Linked DNA regions of Homo sapiens: region 2 is linked to region 1. Evidence: fine-mapped expression QTL. A gene starts in region 1. The other region holds a variant in brackets. All regions are shown on one strand. Distances are between the middles of the regions. Region 1 holds the start of PMM2 (phosphomannomutase 2). Region 2 overlaps PMM2 (phosphomannomutase 2).

Region 1 (16,525 bases):
TTTTGGCCTGTGAATGTTTTGATTCTATTGTTGCATGTCTCTGACAGGTGCAGACACTATGCTACACTACACAAAACTTCCCTGAGCAAGTGGTTAAATACACAACTAGATGCAGAAAGGGCGATCATGAGCAGGTAACAGGATTTTCAGGGCTTCGTGATCCCCAGTATGCGGTTTATAGCATTTCTAAGTAGGAGATCTACCAGGAAAATGAAGTGGAAGTGGAAGAGAGAGTTTTAAAGAGATTGCAGAGATTACTCTTCTAGTAATGGTGATCCTATAAATACAGTCCATACAGATTTGGACTGTAACATATTACATCTTTGAGAACAGTAGTTCTCAAACGGGGGTAATTTTACACAGAGGTCATTTGGCAATGTCTGGAGACATTTCTGGTAGTCATAGCCGTATGTGTGCGTGTGTGTATGCTGTGGGCATCTAGTGGGTAGAGGCCTGGGATGTTGCTAAAGACCCTACAATGCACAGGACAGCCTTCATAATGGAGAACTAACTGGTCCAAAATATCAATAGTGCGAAGGTGAGAAATCTTGCTCTAGAGGAGCTGGTTCCAAGATGTGAGGACTCTGGGGACAACAGGGGTTAAAAGAACAATCAATTCATCCACCTCTCCACTTATAATTTTTTTTTTTTTCCAAGACGGAGTTTCGTTCTTATTGCCCAGGCTGGAGTGCAATGGTGTGATCTCGGCTCATTGCAACCTCTGCCTCCTGGGTTCAAGCAATTCTCCTGCCTCGGCCTCCTGAGTAGCTGGGATTACAGGTGCCCGTCATCACGCCCAGCTCATTTTTTGTAGTTTTAGTAGAAATGGGGTTTGATCATGTCGGCCAGGCTGGTCTCAAACTCCTGACCTCAGGTGATCCATCCGCCTCGGCCTCCCCAAGTGCTGGGATTATAAGCGTGAGCCACCGCGCCTGGCATCCACTTACAATTTCTTACAGGCCAGGAGGCCCTGTGGCTATGGAGATGAATAACCCATACTCCTGCTCTTCAAAAACATATAATCGGATAGTTTACAATAATTACAGAATGCTACATTAGCAAGGTTGTACACTAGAATCTCTCAGAGGTACTCACTGAAATAGGATTCCCAGGCTCCACAGACCTATCAAGTCAGACTCTCCAGTGAAGGGGTCAATAAGCCTCTCTGGTTTTTCGGGGTCCTGTGCTGGAGATTCTGTTTCAGTGATGGGGAGGTGAGGGGGGCTGTCAGAGGGACAATATGAAGACCGGTCTGACTGGGGCTAGAAGGGCTGTCAACGGGTACAAGCAAGAAGTATTCCAGGCAGAGAGATTATCATGTGCAGATACAGCCACTGACCTTTCTAGGTGAATCTACTCACACATCTGAGTACCCAGTTCTCCATCAGTAACTCCAGAAATGTACTGGATTAAAAGCAGAGGAAAAGCAAAGGCCAAGAAAATGTTTCCCAAAAAAGGAAGCAGAAAGCCCGCCATATGGGGACAAGGTTTTAGGGCAGCCTATGATACTTGGCAACAATATCCTCATAAGAAGTTAATCTTTTACCAGATGTAATTAGCAACCCATCATTTACCATCATTTCCCAGTTGCTCCTGCACTTTCTCAAAGTCCGATCCGCCTACCACTCCGATTTTGATCTTCTGCCTCAATTTTTGTAGGAAGTCATCCATTTCTTTGGTAATTTTCTAAATTTCAAGAAAGAAAATACAACAGTCATAAGCCACACAATAATCAGGAGACCAAAACTCTAAGGGTAACACAAGTACATAAGTCTTATTTTCTTATTTAAAAATTAAAGAAAAAATTTTTTTTTGAGATAGGGTCTCACTTGTCACCCAAGCTGGAGTGCAGTGGCATGGTCATAGCTCATCGCAGCCTCGACCTCCCTGGACTCCGGTGATCCTCCTATCTCTGCCTCCTGAGTAGCTGGGACCATAGTTATGTGCCAGCACACCTGGCTAATTTTTTTATATTTTGTAGAGACTAAGTTTTGCCATGTTGCCCAGGCCAGTCTGGAACTCCTGGGTTCAGGAGATCCACCAGCCTTGGCCTCCCAAAGTGCTGAGATTACAGGTATAAGCCAGGTCTATAAGCCTTATTTTCATACATGCCAATTAAGTTACCAGCTCTGTACATAGTTCAAATATTTTAGTTGTAACTGGGGGGGCATCTTTACCAGAATAAACTTAAGTGTTATTTTTACCAAATTTTAAACACAGGTAATATGTTAGTAGCTGTTGTGCACTGTCCCAGCTATTTTTCTATGCATTTATATACCCATCTATGGGCACATATACAAATAGGTCTTATTTTTGAAACATAAATGGAATCATGTCCTGTGCAGGGACTTTGGTTTTTCAGCACTATGCTGTGGTGATCTTTTCATGCCAACACAGATCTAGCTCATCATTCCTTTTAAATGCTACACTATACTCCATTTATGGATTTAAGTTGTTGATTTTAAAATAAAACAACATAATGAAATTAAAGAGGAAGCTTAGGGCCAGACATGGAGGCTCATGCCTGTAATCCCGGCACTTTAGGAGGCCGAGGCGGGTGGATCACCTGAGGTCAGAGTTCGAGATCAGCCTGGCCAACGTGGCGAAACCCTGTCTCTATTAAAAATACAAAAATTAGGCGGGCGCGCTGGTGGGCGCCTGTAGTCCCAGCTACTCGGGAGGCTGAGGCAGGAGAATCACTTGAACCCGGGAGTCAGAGGTTGCAGTGAGCCAAGATCGTGCCACTGCACTCCAGCCTGGGTCACAGAGCGAGACTTCGTCTCAAAACAAAACAAAACAAAACAAAAAAAAAAAAAAAAGGAGAAGCTTAGAATTGATTTTATTGCAATCACCCAAAACAAAACAAAAATGTAAAAGAGTAAGATAACTAGATTTTTTAGTCTCTTCTAAAAGCAAAGCTCCTATCTAGAAAGAGTGGTCTTAGTGGTATAATCTTATGGTAAATTCCAAACTGTGTGATAATTTTAAAAAAGTTATAAACTAAGATGAAAAAATAGCCCTACATTAAGACACATCACAATGTATTTTTACAAGTCTTATAACTCAGCACTTTGAGCAATCTCAGTTGTACATTTACACTGAATGTCTTTTTTTTTTTTTTTTTGACACGAAGTCGTGCTCTGTCACCCAGGCTGGAGTGCAATGGTGTGGTCTCGGCTCATTGCAACCTCCACTTCCTGGGTTCAAGCGATTCTCCTGTCTCAGCCTCCCAGGTAGCCAGGATTACAGGCGCCCGCCATCATGCTCGGCTAATCTTTTTGTATTTTTAGTAGAGACTGGGTTTCACCATGTTGGCAAGGCTGGTCTCGAACTCCTGACCTCAAGTGATCCACCCGCCTCAGCCTCCCCAAGTGCTGGGATTATAGGCATGAACTACCGTGCCCGGCTGAATATCTTTTTACTAGAAATTTAGAAAATACAAAAAACCATTTAATTCAACCTCAGTATATAAACACTTGGAGTTCAATGATTTTTCTTTAAAAAACTTTTTTAGAGTAATACATGAATGTGATTAAAATTGTACAGAAGGGTTTGTAATAGAGTGCAATCTTTTCTACTCTCACAGTGGAATCTGGACCTATTAGACAGAATCTAGAATTGGAGGAGTGGCCTTTAAAAGTCAGAACACGGTGGCTCACGCCTGTAATCCCAGCACTTTGGGAGGCCGAGGCGGGTGGATCACGAGGTCCAGAGATAGAGACCATCCTGGCCAACACAGTGAAACCCCATCTCTACTAAAAATACAAAAATTAGCCAGGCGTGGTGGTGCCTGCCTGTAGCACCAGCTACTTGGTTGCCTGAGGCAGGAGAATTGCTTGAACCTGGGAGGTGGAGGTTGCAGTGAACTGAGATTGGGCCACTACACTCCAGTCTGGTGACAGAGTGAGACTCTGTCTTAAAAAAAAAAAAAGAGTCAGAACTGTGAAAATCAGAAAATCAGAAGCACTTTCCTGAATGGCATACCCAGTGACTAGAACAGCTTCCACCTTAGCACAGATAGGAAATGGCAAACTTGACAGGAACCAATATCCTGAGGCCCAGAGACTTGTACCAGGTTGGCTGTGTGAAACTGAGGAGGTTAGTTCTTCACTGAGTGTGTTTCCTTATGTTTAAAACGGTAATAACAACTATCCTACCTGGGAAGAAAGATGGAGGAAGGTTGAGAGGGTTCAGTGATATGAAAAAGGGTGGCAATGTAAACCCTAGACCACTATGGCCCACAGACCACATTGGGCAGCTGTTTGTTTTTGTAATAAATAAATAAAATTTTATTGGTACACAGCCACTCTTATTTATATAGGGTTTATGGCTGGTTTTGCACTAAAGTTGAGTGGTTACTATAGACCACATAGTCAGCAAAGACAGAGAAGTATTTGCTATATGGCCCTTTACAAAAAATGAATTGGGGACCGGAGTTTTAGACCACTATGGGCTTTTAACAAACCCAAGTGTGTGATCACTGAATTTCAGAATCAGAAAAAGCCTTTGAAGAACTTGGGAGTTGAGCGTCATCACTAGGTAAATCAAACCTGTGGCTGAGAAGGGCAAAATGATACGTCTAAGGTCACACGCATTTGACCTGGACTTCTGGAGCACACCATTGTTACCACCAAGCGAAAACTATGAGGGGTGAGGGTAGAAGCTGAGGATAGTGAGACCATTGGGGTCCAGTCTCAAGTTGAAATGGCCAGTGTTCAGTGGCCAATTTCTGAAAAGGGGCCAGGAGAGCCTCACCTCAAGGCTGATCGTAACTGAAACTTATCTGTGCCTGTAGCAGCAAAATCTGAAAGTGGAAAGCAAGTTTCCAAGGGCCCAAAGAGGCTCTCAGCGGGCAGCCTGTAATAACCTAGGGCTCCTCCATCTCCCTAGTCCATTGCAGGGGCTGGAGATGGGTGTGGTGGAGGTGGCTACTATTTACTGAGGCCTAGTGTGTTGTGTCCAACATACTTTCAAGAACTTACACAATCTCATTTGATCCTCACAGACACCATATGGAACAGGTAACATCCCCATTTAAAGCTGTAGATGTTGAGGCTCAGAGAGGTTAATGACTCGCTGAAGGTCACACAGATGTCAAGAGGTGAAGATGAGACTCCACTAGGTCGGTTTGACCTGGAAACCTGTTTTTAATATCATGACTCACGGCACAGCCCATTGGTTACAGGATTGGGGCCGACACATAGCTGATAAGGGGGCCTGATCTTGGGTTGAAATCCTGGTCTATCAGTCCCGAGCACTAGCGGTGAGTCCAGATTACATTTTCCAACCTAGCACAAGTTTCCTGCTCTTAAGAGTTCTTCAGCCCCGTCTCATCTTTCCAAGCACCAGAGCTCTTCAAGAGCTGGTTAGGGCCTCCCTCTCATTCCTCCAGTGCACCCAGAATAGGGTTCAGCGCCGTGAGGACGTAGGCGGTCCTTAGCCACCCCTTGGCGCCTACCCTGGGTGGTCGATAGCCCCAACTGGGAACAGCACGGGCTCCGCGTCGGCTGCCAGCAGCCCGCCGGCCGCCACTTACCTGCCGCGGGGCGGTGAGGGTCCCATCCACGTCGAAGAGGCAGAGCGCTGGGCCAGGCGCTGCCATGTCCCCAGTTTCTAGCCGCACCTTACAAGACACGTTGGCACGAGGAACTCGGCCCGGAACTTCCGGGTTCGGCCGCTGAGTCGCAGGGCACGTCGGGAAGAGGAGGGGACTCCGTTCCCATAACGCCTGGGAGTAGCGGCAGCCACGATTCCTGGACCGCAACTCCCAGGGTGCAACGCAGATCACGCCCGCCTTGTACATTCGAGCATGCGCTCTTAGGGGTTCCGGGGGCCGGTGGGATTTACTTCCGGCAGCAGGTGGTGGGGCCATGGTAAGGAGGCGGGTGGCGAGCCTTGAGGGGGTGATGCTCTTTGGGGTCGGGGTCAGGGCTGGGGCGGGCAGGCCCGACGCTCGGGTTTCGGACTCCGAGGATCCGTGGGAGGAAGCTCTGGCGTGTGTTACAGTTCGCTTTTCCCGGGCTTTCTCTTGCCCTCCTTGGGTCACATGCGCACAGTAGTAGTAGCTAAAACTCGCCGAGCTCTCACAGTGCATTAGGTACTAAGTTGAGGACTCTGAAACCATCCTCTGGTTCACTGTGTTCTGAGTCCCCATTTTGAAAGGCGAAGAAACCGAATCTCAGGGGTGTGGAGTAATTTGCTCACAAATTACTGTTGGAGCCAGAATTGGAATAAGAGCTTTTACTGCTTCACTACCCACCTAGTAATACCCTTGTGCTACGTGTTGGGGCCTCCCTGCCTCGCTCCTTCTCCTTCTCCGCTGTTTCCCCTTCCCCAGACTAGGCTAAGAGAAAGCAGCAGTTCCCTCCAGCACCCAAGATAGCATATGAATCAAACAGAGAATTAGAAAGTTTATTGGAATAAATATCTCACAGATTTGTTGCTCGAGTTCCCCACTAAGACACTGATTATTTAGTTTCCTGCTTGGGGAAATGTTCACACCCCCTTGTGGATACATTGTCCAGCCCAGAGTTTGTCCTCCCTGGATATGTTTTGAATTAATGACGGCCGCACCTCCTTTCCTGTATTTATTTGGAATTGCCTGGTGGAAGGAGGACTCTGCTGCACTCACTGACTGTGTGATCTTTGGTAAATATCTTACCCTCTCTGGGCTTAGTTTCCCTAGTGGTAAAGTGGAAATAGTGATAACTATCTTAGATAGCTGTTGTGATGCCCACATGAGATAGCATCTGGCTTTACCCTTCCCTCGTCTGGCAATAACGGTTACCTTGCAGGATTGGCAGAAGCCTTAGAGTATGGTGCTTTGCAGATGTTCACCGTGTGATTAATGTGGTTGAGTTCCATGAGAGAAATGGTCTACTGTCTCCCTTTCAGGCTGCCCTTCTCCGAGCTGTGCGTAGGTTTCGGGGAAAAGCTGTGTGGGAAAGGCCTCTCCATGGGCTGTGGTGCTGCAGTGGGCAGGAGGATCCTAAGAGGTGGGTGGGCAGCAGTTCACCCATCTCGAAGGAGAAACTACCAAACGCAGAGACTGAGAAATTCTGGATGTTTTACCGTTTTGATGCCATCAGAACCTTCGGGTTCCTGTCACGACTGAAGTTGGCACAGACTGCCCTGACAGTGGTAGCTTTGCCACCAGGCTATTACTTGTACTCCCAGGGCCTCCTCACTCTCAACACCGTGTGCCTCATGAGTGGGATATCGGGCTTTGCCCTGACCATGCTGTGCTGGATGAGCTATTTCTTACGGAGACTGGTTGGTATCCTGTATCTGAATGAGTCTGGCACCATGCTGCGGGTGGCCCATCTGAACTTCTGGGGCTGGCGGCAGGACACATACTGTCCCATGGCAGATGTGATTCCCCTGACAGAAACCAAGGACCGGCCTCAGGAGATGTTTGTGCGTATCCAGCGGTACAGTGGGAAACAGACCTTCTACGTCACCCTGCGCTATGGACGCATCCTGGACAGAGAGCGTTTCACACAGGTGTTTGGGGTACATCAGATGCTCAAGTGAACAACTGGGACCTGGACCTCTGGGTAACCCTGGGTCGCCTGGATTAACAGGAAGGCTGAGGGTGTGGGCAAGGCTGAAGAAAGGGGACTGGGTACTTGGAGACTTTGCCTGGGCCCCTGGGAACATGTGTTTTGTGGTGAATAAATTCACAAGGCAAGAGCTGGTGTACAGGTTTAGGAAAAAGGCTCTAAGCAAGTTCTTACAGCACTTGTTTGTGACATTCAGTCAGATAATGGCCAGAAGTTTTTGTTAAGAGCCAGTTCTTAGAAGAACCTATGCCAAGGTCACCCATAGAGTCCATTGGTGTGAAAGAGAAAGGCAAAGAGGTGTGGCGGGGGAGCGTAAGATTTGGAGTCAGAAGTCTCAGTTCTGTCATTTGTCCTGGAGCAGGTTATTGAGTCTCTTTGAATCTTGGTTTTCACATCTGTAAAATGGAAAGTCCTGCTTGTTTCATGGGATGGGTGTGGGAATAAACAATAAATGTCAAACGTGTGGCAGACTCAACAGCCTACAGCAGATATTATTAAGCATTTGGTCAGAGGTTTTAGCAGGGAGAAAGGCTTCGAGCAGTCAGCAGGGACTTCCAGAGCCCTGTGCTGTGCCCCTCACATATCCAGCGGCAGAAGGGTCTGTCAGGATGTTAACTACACATTGACGAGCAGATGTCGTCCAGGTAGGCACGAAACCCCAGTTGAGATTTGTTCACCACCCAGAGGTCTAGAGGCTCTTGCTTTGGATGGCCCTGCAGTGTAATAAAGCCAAATGCACCGGATGCTGGTACGTTATTTTATAAACTTAAGCCAGTTATATACATTGCCCCACATAATTAATAATATATGTTCATTATACAATTTGTAACACAGTAAAGAGGAAGGAAGGCATGATCTTTATTATTTTGCCACTCGAAAGTCAATAAGAATGTTTTATCGCTGGGGGCGGTGGCTCACACCTGTAATCCCAGCACGTTGGGAGGTCAAGGTGGCGGATCACGAGGTCAGGAGATCGAGGCCATCCTCGCTAACAGGGTGAAACCGTGTCTCCACTAAAAAATACAAAAAAATTAGCTGGGCGTGGTGGCAGGTGCCTGTAGTCCCAGCTACTCGGGAGGCTGAGGCAGGACAATGGTGTGAACCTGGGAGGCGGAGTTTGCAGTGAGCCGAGATCACGCCACTGCACTCCAGCCTGGGCGACAGAGTGAGACTCCGTCTCAAAAAAAAAATATTTTTTTTTATTGTGTAGCCTTCCATTTTTCTTAACCATACCAAGATACACCTAACAAATTTATCCTTTTAATCATTTTTAAGTGTGCAATTCAGGGACATTAAGTATATTAACAATGTTGTACAGGCTGGGCACACTGTCTCATGCCTGTAATCCCAGCACTTTGGGAGGCTGAGGCGTGTGGATCACTTGAAGTCAGGAGTTCAAGACCAGCCTGGCCAACATGGCAAAACCCTGTCTCTACTGAAAATACAAAAATTAGCTGGGCATGGTGGTGGGCACTTGTATTCCCAGCTACTTGAGAAGCTTGAACCCGGGAGGCAGAGGTTGCAGTGAGCCGAGATTGCACCAATGCACTCCAGCCTGGGAGACAGCCAGACTATCTCAAAAACAAACAAAACAAAAAATGTTGTACAACCGTCACCACCATCTATTTCCAGAACATTTTCATTATCCCAAACAGAACTAATATACCCATTGAGCAATAATTTCCTTCTTTTTCCAGCCCTTGGCAACCACTAACCTGCTTTCTGTCCCTCTGGATTCACCTGTTCTGGATATTTCATATAAATGGAATCATACAATATGTGACCCTTTGTATCTGGCTCTTTTTTTTTTTTTTTTTTGAGTTGAAGTCTCGCTCTGTTTCCCAGGCCAGAGAGCAGTGGCGCGATGTCCACTCACTGCAACTTCCGCCTCACCAGCTCAAATGATTCTGCCTCAGCCTCCCAAGTAGCTGGGATTATAGGTGCCTGACGCCAAGCCTGGCTAATTTTTGTATTTTTAGTAGAGATGGGGTTTCACCATGTTGTCCAGGCTGACCTGGAATCTCTGACCTCAAGTGATCACCCACCTCGGCCTCCCACAGTGCTGGGATTATAGGCGTGAGCCAGTGCGGCTGGCCTGTATCTGGCTTCTTTGACTTGGTGTAGTGTTGTCAAGGTGCATCCGTGTTGTAGCATATGTCAGTGCTATTTCTTTTTTATGGTTAAATATATTTACGGGTGCAGTGTGTATTCTCTGTGTGTGCCACATTTTGTTTGTCCATCTGTTGATGGACATTTGAGTTGTCGTCACCTTTTGACTACTGATGAATGAACATTTGGCTATTGCTGTGAACACTGGTATACGAGTATCTGTTTGAGTCCCTGCTTTCAGTTGTTTTGGGTACGTACTGAGAAGTGGATTAACTGGATCCTGTGGTAATTCTGTTTATTTTTGAGGACCTGCCACTTTTCCACAGCAGCTGTACCATTTTACATTCTCACCAGCAACAGACAAGGGTTCCTGTTTCTCTACATTCTTGTCAACAGTGGTTACTTTTCCTTTTTTTTAAATTTGAGATGGAGTCTTACTCTGTCACCCAGACTGGGTTGCAGTGGTGTGATCTTGGCTCACTGCAGACTCCGCCTCTCAGGTTCAAGCGATTCTCCTGCCTCAGCCTCCTGAGTAGCTGGGATTACAGGCACCCACCACCATGCCCAGCTAATTTTTCTGCTTTTAGTAGAGATGTGGTTTTGCCATGTTGGCCAGACTGGTCTCGAACTCCTGAACTCGAGGGATCCACCTGCCTCGGCCTCCCAAAGTGCTGGGATTACAGGTATGAGCCACCACGCCTGGCCCTTCACTTCGATGCTTCTGTCCTGTGCTTCCATCCTTGCTTTACTTGAGTCCGTTTTTGCAGCTGTCAAAGTGATGCTTAAAAACAGAATCACGTCACTGCTGTGAAGGCTGATGGCCTAATCCACCCTCCCCTTCCCTCCCTCATCCGCACCTCTGTGGAGATCATTCCCCCAGGTCACGACTGCCTTGCTGTTCTCCAGTAATCGAGAATATTCCAGCCTTAAGGCCTTTGCATTGACAGTTCCCTCTGCCTGGAAGGCTTTCTCCCTAGATGCCTGCAAAGAGAACTAACCGCCTCCCCTTCAGTATCCTCTCGGTATAACAGGGTTTTACTATTTATGCTCAAGAAGTGTAGTGAAGATTCAATTATATAGAAGAGACATGTGCATAGCAGTTACACGTGGCTGTTCATTCCTTCTGTACCTTGCCTTCACCTGCCTGTCAGTTCCTTCAGTGACTGTGACTCCCTTCCCCATGAAGAGATAAAGCCTGTGGCTAAAAAATGTCTTAAGAAGTCATAATGATTTGACCTTAACCTCATTAAAACCAAAAATTCTCTCTGTTGGGTTGTAAGTAATGACCTGAGTGAGCCTCACCCCAGGATATTCTGATTATGTCTGGGGTGGATTTCCAGGATCTGTTTTTTTGACCAGCTTGAAGCCAATTCTGAGATTCAGGCAGGCTGGGAATTTCTGAAATACATTACTAGAACAGAAGACACCAGAGTGACACATGGTTCTGTGGACTTTGTGTTCCTGGGCCAATTTTCTGCCCAAAGAATAGGTTCTTAACACTGGCTTTATGTGTAGAATCTCCTGGAGAGTGTTTTAAAAACCCCATTGTCGAAGCCCATGACCAGGCATTTTTATTTTCACGGTTCCCTGGGTGATTCTAACATGGTTGACCATCGCTGCCTTTGGAGAATCACCACTCTGTTAAGTCTGCAAGGGGCTTGCCCTGGGAGGTGAGACCAGATTCTCACCCATGCAGGCATTCCATGTGTGGTCTGCTCATGCAGTACCAGCAGAGGGCACACAGAGCAAATGCATTATTCTAACGCTGTATCCCTAAGCTAAAATCACAGATGTCCACCAGATAACAGGAAATGTGTTAGGGCTTCTGTCATGCACCAGTAGGGTAGTACCTGAGAGCTGCCCCCAAAAAACCAAAGTCAACAACAGAAGCAATAAAAGGACTGGTGCAGTGGCTCACACCTGTAATCCCAACTCTTTGGGAGGCCAAGGTGGGCAGATCGCTTGAGACCAGAAGTTCAAGACCAGCCTGGGCAACATGGTGAAACCCCATCTCTACTAAAAATGTGAAAAATTAGCTGGGTGTAGGGTACATGCCTGTACTCCCAGCTACTGGGGAGGCTGAGGTGAGAAGATCACTTGAGCCTGAGGGGCAGAGGTTGCAGTGAGCTGAGACTGCGCCACTGCACTGCAGCCTGGGTGACAGAGCGGGATCCTGTCTCAAAAAACAAAAAAAACATTAAGTGTGCCCAACCCTTGTTGAATCTGGTAGAACCTGGGCATCTGTTTGTTTATGCTTCCCAGGTTATTCCACAGTACTACAAGTTTTGAGAATCACCCAAAGCCATACAATAGATGGCAAAGCAGCTTCTCAGAAAATGGGAGTTGTCTTTAGATTTGGGTGGTAGATATATTGGCAGTTGCCCCCTTTAACAACAATTATAACATGATTGTCTTAGTTCACTTGGGCTGCTGTAACAAAAATACCGTAGGCTGGATGGCTCAAGCAACATTAATTTTTACAGTTCTGGAGGCTGGGAAATCCAAGATTAATGCGTCAGCGGGTTCATTGTCTAGGAGGGCCTGTTTCCTGGTTGGTAGACAGGCTTATTCCTGCTGTGGTCTCCCATGGCAAAAGAGGTGAGGGAGCTCTCTGAAATTTTTTATAGGGCACTAATCCCATTCATGAGGGATCCACCCTCATGACCTAATCCACTTCCAAAGTTCCCATCTCCAGATATCATCACATTGGAAATTAGGTTTCAACATATGAATTTGGGGGTGACATAAACATTCAGAATATAGCAATAATCTAACAGAAATACTGAAGTGTACATATAAGGATGTTGACTGAAATATTTCCAATAGCAAAAAAACTAGTCCGGGCATGATGGCTCATGCCAGTAATCCCAGCACTTTGGGAAGCTGAGGTGGAAGGATCGCTTGAGACCAGGAGTTCGAAACCAGCCCGGTCAACATAGTGAAACCCCATCTCTACAAAAGAAAAAATAAAACATTAGCTGGATATGGTGGCACATGCCTGTAGTCCTAGCTACTTGGGAGGCTGAGGCAGGAGAATTGTTTGAGCCCGGAAGTTCAAGGCTGCAGTGAGCCATCACTGTGCCACTGCACTCTAGCCTGGGTGACAGAGTGAGACCCTGTCTCAATAAATAAATAAGAAAAGTAAAAACTGGGAATAATCTAAGTTTCCATTAGTAGGCCACATGGTTAAGTAAATGTTGGTAGATTAATATTGTAGTATACATGCAACCTTTAAAAAGAGTGAGATTGTACTGTATCTGTGGAAAAGACCACGAGGTAGGTAGTGAAAAAAAAAAAGCAAGTCACAGAACAGTGTAGTTCTGTGTGATCTTATTTGTGTTTTTAAAAAGTACATGTTGGCCAGGTGCAGTGGCTGTAATCCCAGCACTTTGGGATGCTGAGGCAGGTGGATGACTTGAGGTCAGGAGTTCGAGACCAGCCTGGTCAACATGGTGAAACCCCATCTCTACTCAAAATACAAAAATTAGCTGGGGGTGGTGTCAGACGCCTGTAATCTCAGCTACTCAGGAGGCTGAGGCAGGAGAATTGCTTGAACCCAGGAGGCAGAGATTGCAGTGAGCGGAGATCGCAACATCTCACTCCAGCCTGGGCTACAGTGTGAGACTCCATCTCAAATACATACATACATACATACATTGCAAATTGTGAAGAGTGGCTACCCCCGGGAGAGGATTGAGGGTGAGAGGGGTATAATGAGCACATCATTCATCCTAGCAAATGAAGAAAAACGCTGTAATAAACAGTCTGTTCTTCCATTCCCTTCTCCTCCCACCAGCTTTCTAGGCAAAGGAAAGTTTCTCAACCATGAATTCCAATTCTGGACTCAGAAGCTGAGTAGATGGAAGGAAACATGCAGTCTTTGAAAACTCAGTTAAAGCAGCTGTGATTTAACCATGTTTGTCCCTTGTCAAGTGGCTTTCCTTCTTGTCTGGATTTTGCCCCCGTCTCCCTGCCATGCTGTGGCCATGTAAATAATTTAGATGCCTAGGGTGGTCTGGAGCATGTCCGTTTTATTTTTTTGTTTTTCGAGACAGAGTCTTGCTCTGTCGCCCAGGCTGAAGTGCACAGGTGTGATCTCGGCTCACTGCAACCTCTGCCTCCCGGGGATCAAGCCATTCTCCTGCCTTAGCCTCCCAAGGAGCTGGGGTTACAGGCACCCACCACCACGCCGGCTAATTTTTGTATTTTTAGTAGAGACGGGGTTTCACCATGTTGTCCAGGCTGGTCTTGAACTCCTGACCTCATGATCCACCTGCCTCAGCCTCCCAAAGTTCTGGGATTACAGGCGTGAGCCACTGGGTCTGGCCTGTTTTTCTGTTTGTTTGTTTGTTTGTTTGTTTGTTTGTTTTAAGATGGATCCTCGCTCTGTCACCCAGTCTACAGTGCAGTGGTGCAATCTCAGCTCACTGCAACCTCTGCCTCCTGGGTTCAAGTGATTCTCTGCCTCAGCCTCCTGAGTAGCTGGGGTTACAGGCGCACGCCACCACGCTCAGCCAATTTTTGTATTTTTAGTAGGGACAGGGTTTCACCACGTTGGCCAGGATGGTTTCAAACTCCTGGCCTCAAGTGATCGGCCCACCTTGGCCTCCCAAAGGGTGGGGATTACAGGCGTGAGCTGCTGTGCCCAGCCACATGTCAGTTTTCATATGGCCACCATCCACACATGAGGTCTGCATCAACTGGGGACCTGGTGACGATGCTCCCAGTGTGCACGTGGGAAGCACAGCCCAGTGGTAGCTGTTGTCCTCCTTCCTATGCTGGTTACCAAAAATGAGACTTACCTTGTCATAGGGCCAGATGTCTATGGCATCCGCCACCCAATCATTGCATAACCATGTTTAATGCGCTCCCCAAAGCAGATCTGGTGGGCTGAGCAGCTTGCAGGGGACAGCCTGGATGAATTGCCTGGAGAACTAGAGTTGGGAGCTTGCTTTATGTTGCTGCTTTATGACTGCAAGACTCGTGAGTTCCTAAATAGAAAGCAACAGGGTCCCTTTGAACTCCGGGCAGAGTCCAACTTTTAATGGCCTTGTTTTGATCCTGCGCCATTCAATTGTAAAATCTTGCCTGATTAGAGTCCCATCAGGCAAGGCCAGTACCGTCTAGGTATGGCCATGTTCATACCAACTCTAAGGACACAAACATTCATTTTACTGATTAACAGTTGAAATACACTCTCAGATTCAGCTGGGCTTGCACCTATGGTGTGAAGTAGATTTAATATTTACCAGTGGGAAGTTAACTCTCACAGAAATATAATATTGCCTTTTAGAACTATATATGAGACACACTCAGCTATTCATGGAGAAGAAGCAGTAAAGGACACCAGCATGTATTAAATGCCTACTGTGTGCTGGGCAATTATTATAGGATTTCATTTAATCTGCCAGCAACACTTTGAGTTGGAGAACCCCAGAGAGGTGGTAGAGTGTTCGGGTGAAGCATATGGCTTCTGAAGCCAAACTTCTTGCCTGCTTGAATTCCAGCCCTGCCAATTCCCAGCTGTATAACCTCTTTCTCTGCCTCGGTTTCTTCCTCTGTGAAGTGAAGATAATAACACCACCTACCCAGGATTGTGGGGAGGATTACATGACTTACTACATGAAAAGCACTTAAAATAGTGCTCAGTCCAGGCAAGCACTCAATAAATGTTAGCTAGCAATACTATAATCATCCTTTTTTGGCAGAATAAGGTTCAGAGAACTGAAGTGACTTGCCCACGATCACCCGTCTAGAAAACAGTAGAGCTGGGTCATTCCACTGCCTCCCCAGGGGAAGGACAGAATATAGAAAACAGGCCGGCACAGTGGTTCATGCCTGTAATCCCAGCACTTTGGGAGGCCGAGGCAGGCGGATCACCTGAGCTCAGGAGTCCGAGACCGGCCTGTCCAACATGGCGAAATCCCGTCTCTACTAGAAATGACAAAAAATTAGCTGGGGTTGGTGGTGCATGCCTGTAATCCCAGTCACTGGGGAGACTGAGGCAGGACAATCACTTGAACTTGGGAGGTGGAGGTTGCTGCGAGCCAAGATTGCACCACTGCACGCCAGCCTGGGCGACAGAGTGAGACTCTTGTCTCAAAAAAAAAAAAAAAAAGAAAAGAAAACTGTGACTCTTTAACAATTTTTTTTTGGTTTTGTTTTGTTTTTTGAGACGGAGTCTCGCTCTGTCACCCAGGCTGGAGTGCAGTGGCACGATCTTGGCTCACTGCAACCTCCGCCTCCTGAGTTCAAGCGATTCTCGTGCCTCAGCCTCCCAAGTAGCTGAGACTACAGGCATGTGCCACCACACCTGGCTAATTTATATGTTTTTAGTAGAGACGGGGTTTCACCATGTTGGTCAGGCTGGTCTCAAACTCCTGGCTCAAGTGATCTGCCCGCCTCGGCCTCCCCAAGTGCTGGGATTATGGGAGTGAGCCACTATGCCCGGCCAGTGCTTTATAATTTTTACAACAGACGGGTGAGGTAGGTACAGTAAATCCTCATTTAATGTCATCAGTAAGTTTTGGGAAACTGATTATAAGTTAAACGACATACAATGAAACCAATATTTTTTCCTCATCATAATAGTAAGATGTTGAAAGAAACAATGTTATAACAAGACAACTTTGAATGAAATGATGTTTTCGAGGACCTGCCATCCATTTCCAAGAACCTATCTGTGACATTAAGTGAAGACTTACTATTTGTATACTTTTTTTTGTTTCGAGACAAGGTCTCACTCTGTCGCCCAGGCTGGAGTGCAGTGGTGCAATCATAGTTCACTGCAGCCTCAATCTCTTGGGCTCAGGCAATCCTCCCACCCCAGCCTCCCAAGTAGCTGGAATTATAGG
Region 2 (14,006 bases), 44 kb before region 1:
GTTCTGGTAATTCTGATTTTGCCTTTTTTTTCCTTCGGACATAGGGTCTTGCTATGTTGCCCAGGCTGGGCTCGAGCGAACCTCCTGCCTCAGCCTCTCGAGTAGCTGAGACAAAGACTGTGTCCAACAGTGCCAAGCTAGTTCCAGTAATTCTTCTAATTAAAAAAAAAAAAAAAAAGATTTCTTTCAGGAATGGCACAGTGGGTAAAAGTCACAGAGAACCTAACAAAGGCACAACCTAGCTGGGTGTGGTGGTGCGCACCTGTAATCCCAGCTGCTTGGCAGGAGAATCACTTGAACCTGGGAGGCGGAGATTGCAGTGAGCCAAGAACAGACCACTGTACTTCAGCCTGGGCAACAGAGCGAGACTCAAAAGAAAAAAAAACAAACAAAAAACCAAAGGCACAACCAACTCTCACATGCCTCAAAAGAGCCAAACACCCTCCCCGCCTCAGTGACTGAGGAGGGGAGTCAGTATTCACACATTAACACAACACACCTTTCTAGAACACCTACTGTCAGGCCTCTGAGCCCAAGCCAAGCCATCGCATCCCCTATGACTTACACGTGTACATCCAGATGGCCTGAAGTAACTAAAGATCCACAAAAGAAGTAAAAATAGCCTTAACTGATGACATTCCACCATTGTGATTTGTTTCTGCCCCACCCGAACTGATCAATGTACTTTGTAATCTCCCCCACCCTTAAGAAGGTTCTTTGAAATTCTCCCCACTCTTGAGGATGTACTTTGTGAGATCCACCCCTGCCCGCAAAACATTGCTCTTAACTTCACCGCCTATCCCAAAACCCATAAGAACTAATGATAATCCACCACCCTTTGCCGACTCTCTTTTCGGACTCAGCCCGCCTGCACCCAGGTGAAATAAACAGCCATGTTGCTCACACAAAGCCTGTTTGGTGGTCTCTTCACATGGACGCGCATGAAATTTGGTGCCGTGACTCAGATCGGGAGACCTCCCTTGGGAGATCAATCCCCTATCCTCCTGCTCTTTGCTCCATGAGAAAGATCCACCTACGACCTCAGGTCCTCAGACCCACCAGCCCAAGAAACATCTCACCAATTTCAAATCCAATAAGCAGCCTCTTTTTACTCTCTTCTCCAACCTCCCTATCCCTCACCGTCTTTCTCCTTTCAATCTAGGCGCCACACTTCAATCTCTCCCTTCTCTTAATTTCAATTCCTTTCATTTTCTGGTAGAGACAAAGGAGACGTTTTATCTGTGGACCCAAAAAACCGGCGCCGGTCACGGACTGGGAAGGCAGCCTTCCCTTGGTGTTTAATCATTGCAAGGACGCCTCTGATCATTCACCCACGTTTCAGAGGTGTCAGACCACGCAGGGACACCTGCCTTGGTCCATAACCCTTAGCGGCAAGTCCCGCTTTTCTGAGGAAGGGGCAAGGACCCCAACCCCTTCTTTCCGTGTCTCTACCCCTTCTCTGATTTTCTGGGGCAGGGGCAAGAACCCCCCAACCCCTTCTCCTTCACCCTTAGCGGCAAGTCCCGCTTTTCTGGGGGAGAGGCAAGTACCCCAAACTCGTATCTCTGTGCCCCAATCCCTTATTTCCATGCCCCAACCCCTTTCCCGCTTTTCTGGAGGGTAAGAACCCCCAAACCCCTTCCCTCCATGTCTCTACGCTCTCTTTTCTCTGGGCTTGCCTCCTTCACTATGGGCAACCTTCCTACATTCCTCCTTCTTCTCCCTTAGCCTGTGTTCTCAAGAACTTAAAACCTCTTCAACTCATACCTGACCTAAAACCTAAATAAATGCCTTATTTTCTTCTGCAATGCCGCTTGACCCCAATACAAACTCGACAGTAGTTCCAAATAGCCAGAAAACGGCACTTTCAATTTTTCCATCCTGCAAGATCTAAATAATTCTTGTCGTAAAATGGGCAAACAGTCTGAGGTGCCTGATGTCCAGGCATTCTTTTACACATCAGTCCCTTCCTAGTCTCTGTGCCCAGTGCAACTCGTCCCAAATCTTCCTTCTTTCCCTCCCGCCTGTCCCCTCAGTCCCAACCCCAAGCGTTGCTGAGTCTTTCTAATCTTCCTTTTCTACAGACCCATCTGACCTCTCCCCTCCTCGCCAGGCCGAGCTAGGTTCCAATTCTTCCTCAGCCCCTAGACCCTAAAAGGTCAAAAGGCCGTCTTATTCTCAATATACATTTTATTACCCAATCTGCTCCCGACATTAAATAAAACTCCAAAAATTAGAATCTGGCCCTCAAACTCCACAACAGGACTTAATTAACCTCACCTTCAAGGTGTACAATAATAGAAAAAAGTTGCAATTCCTTGCCTCCACTGTGAGACAAACCCCAGCCACATCTCCAGCACACAAGAACTTCCAAATGCCTGAACCGCAGCGGCCAGGCGTTCCTCCAGAACCTCCTCCCCCAGGAGCTTGCTACACGTGCCAGAAATCTGACTACCAGGGCCAAGGAATGCCTGCAGCCCAGGATTCCTCCTAAGCCGTGTCCCATCTGTGCGGGACCCCACTGGAAATCGGACTGTTCAACTCACCTGGCAGCCACTCCCAGAGCCCCTAGAACTCTGGCCCAAGGCTCTCTGACTGACTCCTTGGCTTAGCGGCTGAAGATTGACGCTGCCCAATCGCCTTGGAAGCCCCCAGACCATCACGGACGCCAAGCTTTGGGTAACTCTCACAGTGGAGGGTAAGTCCACCCACTGTTTAATCGAAACGGGGACTACCCACTCCATGTTGCCTTCTTTTCAAGGGCCTGTTTCCCTTGCCTCCATAACTGTTGTGGGTATGGACGGCCAGGCTTCTAAACCTCTTAAAACTCCCCAACTCTGGTGCCAACTTAGACATTACTCTTTGAAGCACTCATTTTTAGTTATCCCCACCTGCCCAGTTCCCTTATTAGGCCGAGATATTTTAAGCAAATTATCTGCTTCCCTGACTATTCCTGGACTACAGCCGCATCTCATTGCCGCCCTTCTCCCCAACCCAAAGCCTCCTTTGCGTCTTCCTCTCATATCCCCCCACCTTAACCCACAAATATGGGACATTTCTACTCCTTCCCTGACAACTGATCACATGCCCATTACCATCCCATTAAAACCTAATCACCCTTACCCCGCTCAACGCCAATATCCCATCCCACAGCACGCTTTAAAAGGATTAAAGCCTGTTATCACTGGCCTGCTACAGCATAGGCTTCTAAAACCTATAAACTCTTCTTATAATCCCCCCATTTTACCTGTCCAGAAACCGGACAAGTCTTACAGATTAGTTCAGGATCTGCGCCTTATCAACCAAATTGTTTTGCCTATCCACCCTGTGGTGCCCAACCCATACACTCTTTCATCCTCAATACCTTCCTCCACAACTCACTATTCCACACTTGATCTTAAAGATGCTTCTTTCAGCGTTCCCCTGCACCCCTTGTCCCAGCCTCTCTTTGCTTTCACCTGGACTGACCCTGACACCCATCAGTCCCAGCAGCTTACCTGGGCTGTGCTGCCACAAGGTTTCAGGGACAGCCCTCATTACTTCAGCCAAGCTCTTTCTCATGATCTACTTTCTTTCCACCCCTCCGCTTCTCACCTTATTTAATATATTGATGACCTTCTTCTTTGTAGCCCCTCCTTTGAATCTTCTCAACAAGACACACTTCTGCTCCTTCAGCATTTACTCTCCAAAGGATATCAGGTATCCCCCTCCAAAGCTCAAATTTCATCCTCATCTGTTACCTATCTCGGCATAATTCTCATAAAAACACACGTGCTCTGCCTGTTGATCTTGTCTGATTAATCTCCCAAACCTCAATCCCTTCCAAAACAACAACTCCCTTCCTTCCTAGGCATGGTTAGTGCGGTCAGAATTCTTACACAACAGCCAGGACCACACCCTGTAGCCTTTCTGTCCAAACAACTTGACCTTACTGTTTTAGCCTAGCCCTCATGTCTGCGTGCAGCGGCTGCCGCTGCTTTAATACTTTTAGAGGCCGTAAAAATCACAAACTATGCTCAACTCACTCTCTACATTTCTCATAACTTCCAAAATCCATTTTCTTCCTCATACCTGATGCATATACTTTCTGCTCCCCGGCTCCTTCAGCTGTACTCACTCTTTGTTAAGTCCCACAATTACCATTGTTCCTGGCCCGGACCTCAATCTGGCCTCCCACATTATTCCTGATACCACACCTGACCCCCATGACTGTGTTTCTCTGATCCACCTGACATTCACCCCATTTCCCCATATTTCCTTCTTTCCTGTTCCTCACCCTGATCACGCTTGATTTATTGATGGCGGTTCCACCAGGCCTAATCGCCACATAGCAGCAAAGGCAGGCTATGCTATAGTACAAGCCACTAGCCCGCCTCTTAGAACCTCTCATTTCCTTTCCATCGTGGAAATCTATCCTCAAGGAAATAACTTCTCAGTGTTCCATCTGCTATTCTACTACTCCTCAGGGATTATTCAGGCCCCTTCCCTTCCCTACACATCAAGCTTGAAGATTTGCCCCCACCCAGGACTGGCAAATTAGCTTCACTCAACATGCCCCGAGTCAGATAACTAAAATACCTCTTAGTCTAAGTAGACACTTTCACTAGATAAGTAGAGGCCTTTCCTACAGGGTCTGAGAAGGCCACCGCAGTCATTTCTTCCCTTCTGTCAGACATAATTCCTCAGTTTAGCCTTCCCACCTCTATACAGTCTGATAACGGACCAGCCTTTACTAGTCAAATCACCCAAGCAGTTTCTCAGGCTCTTAGTATTCAGTGGAACCTTCATATCCCTTACAGTCCTCAATCTTCAGGAAAGGTAGAACGGACTAATGGTCTTTTAAAGGTACACATCACCAAGCTCAGCCTCCAACTTAAAAAGGATTGGACAGTACTTTTACTTCTTGCTCTTCTCAGAATTAGAGCCTGTTCTCGAGATGCTACAGGGTAGGTACAGTCCATTTGAACTTTTATATGGACGCACTTTCTTGCTTGGCCCCAACCTCATCCCAGACACCAGCCCTCTAGGCGACTGTCTTCCAGTCCTCCAGCAGGCTAGACAGGAAATTCGCCAGGCTGCTAAGCTTCTCTTGCCTACTCCAGATCCCCAGCCATATGAAGACACCCTAGCTGGACGATCAGTTCTTGTTAATCTGACTCCTCAAACTCTACAACCTCGATGGACCGGACCCTACTTAGTCATCTATAGTACCCCGACTGCTGTCCGCCTGCAGGATCCTCCCCACTAGGCTCACCGTTCCAGAATAAAGCTGTGTCCATCGGACAGCCAGCCTAATCCCTCCTCTTCCTCCTGGAAGTTGCAAGTACTCTCCCCTACTTCCCTTAAACTCAGTCGTATTTCGAAGAACAGTCATAACCCTTATGAGCCTAATACATCCCTTCATTCTATTAGGTTTTTCGTCCTTACCCTACTTTTTGCAACAGGGCTTTACGAAGTCACCCCCACCACTTAGGCCGAGCCCCAAAAAACTAGTCATCCCTACTATCTTCTGTCTGGTCATACTCCTATTCTCCATTCTCAACTACTTATAAATGCCCTACTCTTGTTTACACGGCCGGTTTACACTGTTTCTTCAAGCCATCACAGCTGATATCTCTTGGTGCTATCCCCAAACTGCCACTCTTAACTCCCTCTTAGAGTGGATAGATGATCTTTGCTGGCAAGGCACCCTCCAATATTTCCACCCTGATGAAGTTCTATTCTTTACTTTTATACTCACTCTTATTCTCATTCCCATTCTTATGCCACCCTCTACCTCTCCCCAGCTATCTCCACCACACTATCAACCTTACCCATTCTCTCCTAGCCGCTTCTAATCCCTCCTTAGTGAACAACTGCTGGCTTTGCATTTCCCTTTCTTCCAGTGCCTACACAGCTGTCCCCACCTTACAGACAGACTGGGCAACATCTCCCATCTCCCTACACCTCCGAACTTCCTGTAACAGCCCTCACCTTTACCCTCCTGAAGAACTCATTTACTTTCTAGACAGGTCCAGCAAGACTTCCCCAGACATTTCACATCAGCAAGCTGCCGCCCTCCTTCACACTTATTTAAAAAACCTTTCTCCTTTCTCCTTTCTCCCCCCATATTCGGACCTCTCACAACACAAACTACTATGCCTGTGGCCGCTCCTATATGTATCTCTCGGCAAAGACCCACTGGAATTCCCCTAGGTAATCTTTCACCTTCTCGATGTTCCTTTACTCTTCATCTCCAAAGTCCAACTACACACATCACTCAAACAATGGGAGCCTTCCAGCTCCATATTACAGACAAGCCCGCTATCAATACTGACAAACTTAAAAACATTAGCAGTAATTATTGCTTAGGAAGACACTTGCCCTGTATTTCACTCCATCCTTGGCTACTTTCCCCTTGCTCATCAGACTCTTCCTCCCAGGCCCTCCTCTTGTTTACTTTTACCCAGCCCCGAAAATAATAGTGAAAGGTTGCTTGTAGATACTCAACGTTTTCTCATACACCATGAAAATCGAACCTCCCCCTCTATGCAGTTACCCCATCAGTCCCCATTACAACCTCTGACAGCTGCCGCCCTAGCTGGATCCCTAGGACTCTAGGTACAAGACACCCCTTGCAGCACTCCTCATCTTTTTACTTTACATCTCCAGTTTTGCCTCGCACAAGGTCTCTTCTTCCTCTGTGGATCCTTTACCTAACATGTGTCTACCTGCTAATTGGACAGGCACATGCACACTAGTCTTCCTTACTCCCAAAATTCAATTTGCAAATAGGAACGAAGAGCTCCCTGTTCCCCTCATGACACCGACACAACAAAGAAGAGTCATTCCACTAATTCCCTTGATGGTCGGTTTAGGACTTTCTGCCTCCACTATTGCTCTCGGTACTGGAATAGCAGGCATTTCAACCTCTGTCATGACCTTCCGTAGCCTGTCTAATGACTTCTCTGCTAGCATCACAGACATGTCACAAACTTTATCAGTCCTCCAGGCCCAAGTTGACTCTTTAGCTGCAGTTGTCCTCCAAAACCACCGAGGCCTTGCTTACTCACTGTTGAAAAAAGAGGACTCTGCATATTCTTAAATGAAGAGTGTTGTTTTTACCTAAATCAATCTGGCCTGATGTATGACAACATAAAAAAACTCAAGCATAGAGCCCAAAAACTTGCCAACCAAGCAAGTAATTACGCTGAACCCCCTTACGCACTCTCTAATTGGATGTCCTAGGTCCTCCCAATTCTTAGTCCTTTAATACCCATTTTTCTCCTTCTTTTATTTGGACCTTGGATCTTCTGTTTAGTTTCTCAATTCATCCAAAACTGTATCCAGACCATCACCAATCATTCTATACAACAAATGTTTCTTCTAACATCCCCACAATATCACCCCTTACCACAAGACCTCCCTTCAGCTTAATCTCTCCCACTCTAGGTTCCCACGCCGCCCCTAATCCCGCTTGAAGCAGCCCTGAGAAACATCGCCCATTCTGTCTCCATACCACCCCCCAAAAATTTTCACCGCCCCAATACTTCAACACTATTTTATTTTTCTTATTAACATAAGAAGGCAGGAATGTCAGGCCTCTGAGCCCAAGCCAAGCCATCGCATCCCCTATGACTTGCACGTATACATCCAGATGGCCTGAAGTAAATGAAGATCCACAAAAGAAGTAAAAATAGCCTTAGCTGATGACATTCCACCATTGTGATTTGTTTCTGCCCCACCCGAACTGATCAATGTACTTTGTAATCTCCCCCACCCTTAAGAAGGTTCTTTGTAATTCTCCCCACTCTTGAGAATGTACTTTGTGAGATCCACTCCTGCCCACAAAACATTGCTCTTAACTTCACCGCCTATCCCAAAACCCATAAGAACTAATGATAATCCACCACCCTTTGCTGACTCTCTTTTCGGACTCAGCCCGCCTGCACCCAGGTGAAATAAACAGCCATGTTGCTCACACAAAGCCTGTTTGGTGGTCTCTTCACACGGACGCGCATGAAACACTTCAATCTCTCCCTTAATTTCAATTCCTTTCATTTTCTGGTAGAGACAAAGGAGACACATTTTATCTGTGGACTCAAAACTCCGGCGCCGGTCAGAGACTGGGAAGGCAGCCTTCCCTTGGTGTTTAATCACTGCAGGGACGCCTGATTATTTACCCACGTTTCAAAGGTGTCAGACCATGCAGGGACGCCTGCCTTGGTCCTTCACCCTTAGCGGCAAGTCCCACTTTTCTGGCGGAGAGGCAAGTACACCAACCCCTTCTCTCCGTGTCTCTACCCCTTCTCTGCTTTTCTAGGGGAGGGGTAAGTACCCCAACCCCATGTATCTCTGCGCCCCGATCCCTTATTTCTGCGCCCCAATCTCTTATATCTCTGTGCCCCAATCCCTTATTTCCGTGCCCCAACCCCTTCTCTGCTTTTCTGGAGGGCAAGAACCCCCCACCCCTTCTCCGTGTCTCTACTCTTTTCTCTGGGCTTACCTCCTTCACTATGGGCAAGCTTCCACCTTCCATTCCTTTCTTCTCCCTTAGCCTGTGTTCTTAAGAACTTAAAACCTCTTCAACTCACACCTGACCTAAAACCTAAATAAATGCCTTATTTTCTTCTGCAATTCCACTTGACCCCAATACAAACTCGACAGTAGTTCCAAATAGCCAGAAAACGGCACTTTCAGTTTTTCCATCCTACAAGATCTAAATAATTCTTGTCGTAAAATGGGCAAACGGTCTGAGGTGCCTGATGTCCAGGCATTCTTTTACACATCAGTCCCTTCCTAGTCTCTGTGCCCAGTGCAACTCGTCCCAAATCTTCCTTCTTTCCCTCCCACCTGTCCCCTCAGTCGCAACCCCAAGCGTCGCTGAGTCTTTCTAATATTCCTTTTCTACAGACCCATCTGACCTCTCCTCCTCGCCAGGCTGAGCTAGGTTCCAATTCTTCCTCAGCCTCCGCTCCTCCACCCTATAATCCTTTTATCACCTCCCCTCCTCACACCTGGACCAGCTTACAGTTCATTCTGTGACTGGCCCTCCCCCACCTGCCCAGCAATTTACTCTTGAAAAGG[T/C]GGCTGGAGCTAAAGGCATAGTCAAAGTTAATGCTCCTTTTTCTTTATCCCAAATCAGATAGCGTTTAGGTTCTTTTTCATCAAATATAAAAATCCAGCCCAGTTCATGGCTCGTTTGGCAGCAACCCTGACACGCTTTACAGCCCTAGACCCTAAAAGGTCAAAAGGCCGTCTTATTCTCAATATACATTTTATTACCCAATCTGCTCCCGACATTAAATAAAACTCCAAAAATTAGAATCTGGCCCTCAAACCCCATAACAGGACTTAACTAACCTCACCTTCAAGGTGGACAGTAATAGAAAAAAGTGGCAATTCCTTGCCTCCACTGTGAGACAAACCCCAGCCACATCTCCAGCACACAAGAACTTCCAAACGCCTGAACCGCAGCAGCCAGGCGTTCCTCCAGAACCTCCTCCCCCAGGAGCTTGCTACACGTGCTGGAAATCTGGCCACTGGGCCAAGGAATGCCCACAGCCCGGGATTCCTCCTAAGCCGCGTCCCATCTGTGCGGGACCCCATGAAAATCAGACTGTTCAACTCACCTGGCAGCCACTCCCCAGAGCCCCTGGAACTCTGGCCCAAGGCTCTCTGACTCCTTCCCAGATCTCGGCTTAGCAGCTGAAGACTGACACTGCCCAATCCCCTCGGAAGCCCCATAAACCATCACGGACGCCGAGCATCGGGTAACTCTCACAGTGGAGGGTAAGTCCATCCCCTTCTTAATCAATACGGAGGCTACCCACTCCACATTACCTTCTTTTCAAGGGCCTGTTTCCCTTGCCTCCGTAACTGTTGTGGGTATTGACGGCCAGGCTTCTAAACCTCTTAAAACTCCCCAACTCTGGTGCCAATTTAGACATTACTCTTTTAAGCACTCCTTTTCAGTTATCCCCACCTGCCCAGTTCCCTTATTAGGCCGAGACACTTTAAATTATCTGCTTCCCTGAGTATTCCTGAACTACAGCTACATCTCATTGCCGCCCTTCTTCCCAATCCAAAGCCTCCTTTGTGTCCTCCTCTTGTATCCCCCAACCTTAACCCACAAGTATAAGATACCTCTACTCCCTCCTTGGCAACCAATCATGCACCCCTTACCATCTCATTAAAACCTAATCACCCTTACCCCACTCAATGTCCCATCCCATGGCACGCTTTAAAAGGATTAAAGCCTGTTATCACTCGCCTGCTACAGCATGGCCTTTTAAAACCTATAAACTCTCCTTACAATTCCCCCATTTTACCTGTCCTAAAACCAGACAAGGCTTACAGGTTACTTCAGAATCTGCGCGTTATCAACCAAATTGTTTTGCCTATCCACCCCGTGGTGCCAAACCCATATACTCTCCTGTCCTCAATACCTCCATCTACTACCCATTATTCTGTTCTGGATCTCAAACATGCTTTCTTTACTATTCCTTTGCACCCTTCATCCCAGCGTCTCTTTGCTTTCAGTTAGATGACCCTGACACCCATCAGGCTCAGCAAATTACCTGGGCTGTACGGCCACAAGGCTTCACAGACAGCCCCCACTACTTCAGTCAAGCCCAAATTTCATCCCCATCTGTTACCTATCTCGGCATAATTCTCATAAAAACACACGTGCTCTCCCTGTTGATCGTGTCTGATTAATCTCCCAAACCTCAATCCCTTACAAAACAACAACTCCCTTCCTTCCTAGGCATGGTTAGTGCGGTCAGAATTCTTACACAACAGCCAGGACCACACCCTGTAGCCTTTCTGTCCAAACAACTTGACCTTACTGTTTTAGCCTAGCCCTCATGTCTGCGTGCAGCGGCTGCCGCTGCTTTAATACTTTTAGAGGCCGTAAAAATCACAAACTATGCTCAACTCACTCTCTACATTTCTCGTAACTTCCAAAATCTACTTTCTTCCTCATACCTGATGCATATACTTTCTGCTCCCCGGCTCCTTCAGCTGTACTCACTCTTTGTTAAGTCCCACAATTACCATTGTTCCTGGCCCGGACCTCAATCTGGCCTCCCACATTATTCCTGATACCACACCTGACCCCCATGACTGTATCTCTCTGATCCACCTGATATTCACCCCATTTCCCCATATTTCCTTCTTTCCTGTTCCTCACCCTGATCACGCTTGATTTATTGATGGCGGTTCCACCAGGCCTAATCGCCACATAGCAGCAAAGGCAGGCTATGCTATAGTACAAGCCACTAGCCCGCCTCTTAGAACGTCTCATTTCCTTTCCATCGTGGAAATCTATCCTCAAGGAAATAACTTCTCAGTGTTCCATCTGCTATTCTACTACTCCTCAGGGATTATTCAGGCCCCCTCCCTTCCCTACACATCAAGCTTGAAGATTTGCCCCCACCCAGGACTGGCAAATTAGCTTCACTCAACATGCCCCGAGTCAGGTAACTAAAATACCTCTTACTCTAAGTAGACACTTTCACTAGATAAGTAGAGGCCTTTCCTACAGGGTCTGAGAAGGCCACCGCAGTCATTTCTTCCCTTCTGTCAGACATAATTCCTCAGTTTAGCCTTCCCACCTCTATACAGTCTGATAACGGACCAGCCTTTACTAGTCAAATCACCCAAGCAGTTTCTCAGGCTCTTAGTATTCAGTGGAACCTTCATATCCCTTACAGTCCTCAATCTTCAGGAAAGGTAGAATGGACTAAAGGTCTTTTAAAAACACACCTCACCAAGCTCAGCCTCCAACTTAAAAAGGACTGGACAATACTTTTACCACTTTCCCTTCTCAGAATTCAGGCCTGTCCTCAGAATGCTACAAGGTACAGCCCATGTAAGCTCCTGTATAGACGCTCCTTTTTATTAGGCCCCAGTCTCATTCCAGACACCAGACCAACTTAGACTGTGCCCCCCAAAACTTGTCATCCCTACTATCTCCTGTCTAGTCATATTCCTATTCGCCATTCTCAACTACTCATACATGCCCTGCTCTTGTTTACACTGCCGGTTTACACTGTTTCTCCAAGCCATCACAGCTGATATCTCCTGGTGCTATCCCCAAACTGCCACTCTAAACTCTTGAGGTAAATAAATAATCTTTGCTGGCAGGACTATGCTGAATCTCCTTAGGCACTCTCTAATCAGATGTCATAGGTCCTCCCAATTCTTAGACCTTTTATACCTGTTTTTCTCCTTCTCTTATTCCATTTAGTTTCTGAATTCATCCAAAACCGTATCCAGGCCATCACCAATCATTCTATACGACAGATGTTTCTTCTAACATCCCCACAATATCACCCCTTACCACAAGACCTCCCTTCAGCTTAATCTCTCCCACTCTAGGTTCCCACGCCGCCCCTAATCCCGCTTGAAGCAGCCCTGAGAAACATCGTCCATTCTCTCTCCATACCACCCCCTAAAAATTTTCACCGCCCCAACACTTCAACACTATTTTATTTTTCTTATTAATATAAGAAGGCAGGAATGTCAGGCCTCTGAGCCCAAGCCAAGCCATCGCATCCCCTGTGACTTGCACGTATACATCCAGATGGCCTGAAGTAACTGAAGATCCGCAAAAGTAAAAATAGCCTTAACTGATGACATCCCACCATTGTGATTTGCTTCTGCCCCACCCAAACTGATCAATGTACTTTGTAATCTCCCCCACCCTTAAGAAGGTTCTTTGTAATTCTCCCCACTCTTGAGAATGTACTTTGTGAGATCCACTCCTGCCCGCAAAACATTGCTCTTAACTTCACCGCCTATCCCAAAACCCATAAGAACTAATGATAATCCACCACCCTTTGCTGACTCTCTTTTGGGACTCAGCCCGCCTGCACCCAGGTGAAAAAAACAGCCATGTTGCTCACACAAAGCCCGTTTGGTGGTCTCTTCACACGGACGCGCACGAAACCCTCTACCCGCCAGGCATTGCTTTAGCAGCTGGGGATACGGCGCAAACCAAAACCACATCACAGCTGCCCTGGGGAGACCAGTCATCAACAGACAGCTCTTGGGCGCCTTGTTGAGCAAAGGGAGGGAAGGGCTGCCAGGCCTGGAGGGTGAGGGAACCCTGGCATCTGAGGGACGTGAGGGCACAGGCCATGTGGCCATCAGAGAAGACGCTGAAGAGGGAGGATGGGCAGGGGCTGGGGCCGGGCCACAGCGGGCCTCACAGATTGTGGTAAGCACCTGGGATTTCACGGGTAGCCGCCTGAAGCCTGCAAGCCCGGGCCATGATCAGATTACTTTACAACAGGATCTTTCTGGAGAACGGGTGCGGGGTGAGGACGCAATTGAAGGGAGCAGTTAGGAGGCTCCTGCAGCCGGCCAGGGTGCAAAGAGGACAGAGGCCATTACCTGGGAAGAGACCCCTGAAGCAAAAAGGGTTTATGCTAGTCCCCTGACAGTTGCTAGGCCTGCCCTTCCCTGCAGATGTCACATGCAGGGACAGAGGCCTAACGGCACGAGTCTCCTCCCGTGGTCCTGCTGGGGGCTGGTGGGGAGGTGTCTGTGGAATCTGAGTGATCTGTGTGCATGTAACTCGCTGACACTTAATAAAGCTAGGTCTGGAGAATCAATTCCCATCCAGGAAGGTGAAATCCTCCCGACCCTGGCTGCAGGAGCCTCTCTGGGTTGCTTCTCAGCTCCACCCGCTTTCAGAGAGCCGCACGGCTCGCAGGAGCATCTGCATCACAAACACAACCTGCCTCAGGCCTTCCTTTCTCTCCCGCCAAGGGTCTGCTTCTTTCTTTGTGACTCTCAGAGCATGGTGGGCTCCTTCCTGGGGTGCAGCCTTCTTGGGGCTGTGTCGAGCTTGCATACCAGAGTAGCTGCAAAGCAAGTGAAGCGGACCCCAAATGAAATGAAAGGAAAGCTGGCTGCCCTCTAGAATAATAAGGCTAGAGAACCGGAAATTTCAAATGCTGGATTTGCATATGCACTAAAGGTTACTTGATTCTAGTTGGGGAACTCAGCCACCTCCC

Evidence for each region.
Region 2: its variant is fine-mapped to the expression of PMM2 in whole blood (INTERVAL, PIP above 0.99).

What each region holds. Positions count from the first base shown.
Region 1 is chr16:8,786,960-8,803,484 of GRCh38, reverse strand. PMM2 (phosphomannomutase 2) reads right to left here and starts at 5,646. Exons shown (of 8, transcript NM_000303.3): 1 at 5,537-5,646; 2 at 1,575-1,686. The coding sequence starts at 5,602. TMEM186 (transmembrane protein 186) reads left to right here and starts at 5,846. Exons shown (of 2, transcript NM_015421.4): 1 at 5,846-5,873; 2 at 6,895-8,305. The coding sequence starts at 5,871. The coding sequence ends at 7,533. RefSeq lists silencers at 3,958-4,007, 11,326-11,505 and enhancers at 4,863-5,557, 5,870-5,919, 5,558-6,252.
Region 2 is chr16:8,831,968-8,845,973 of GRCh38, reverse strand. The region is part of intron 7 of PMM2 (phosphomannomutase 2); the gene reads right to left. Among named protein-coding and RNA genes, the nearest start is that of CARHSP1, 30 kb to the left of the region's middle. RefSeq lists enhancers at 8,990-9,522, 9,523-10,057. The variant T/C (reference allele first, on the strand shown) is at 9,067.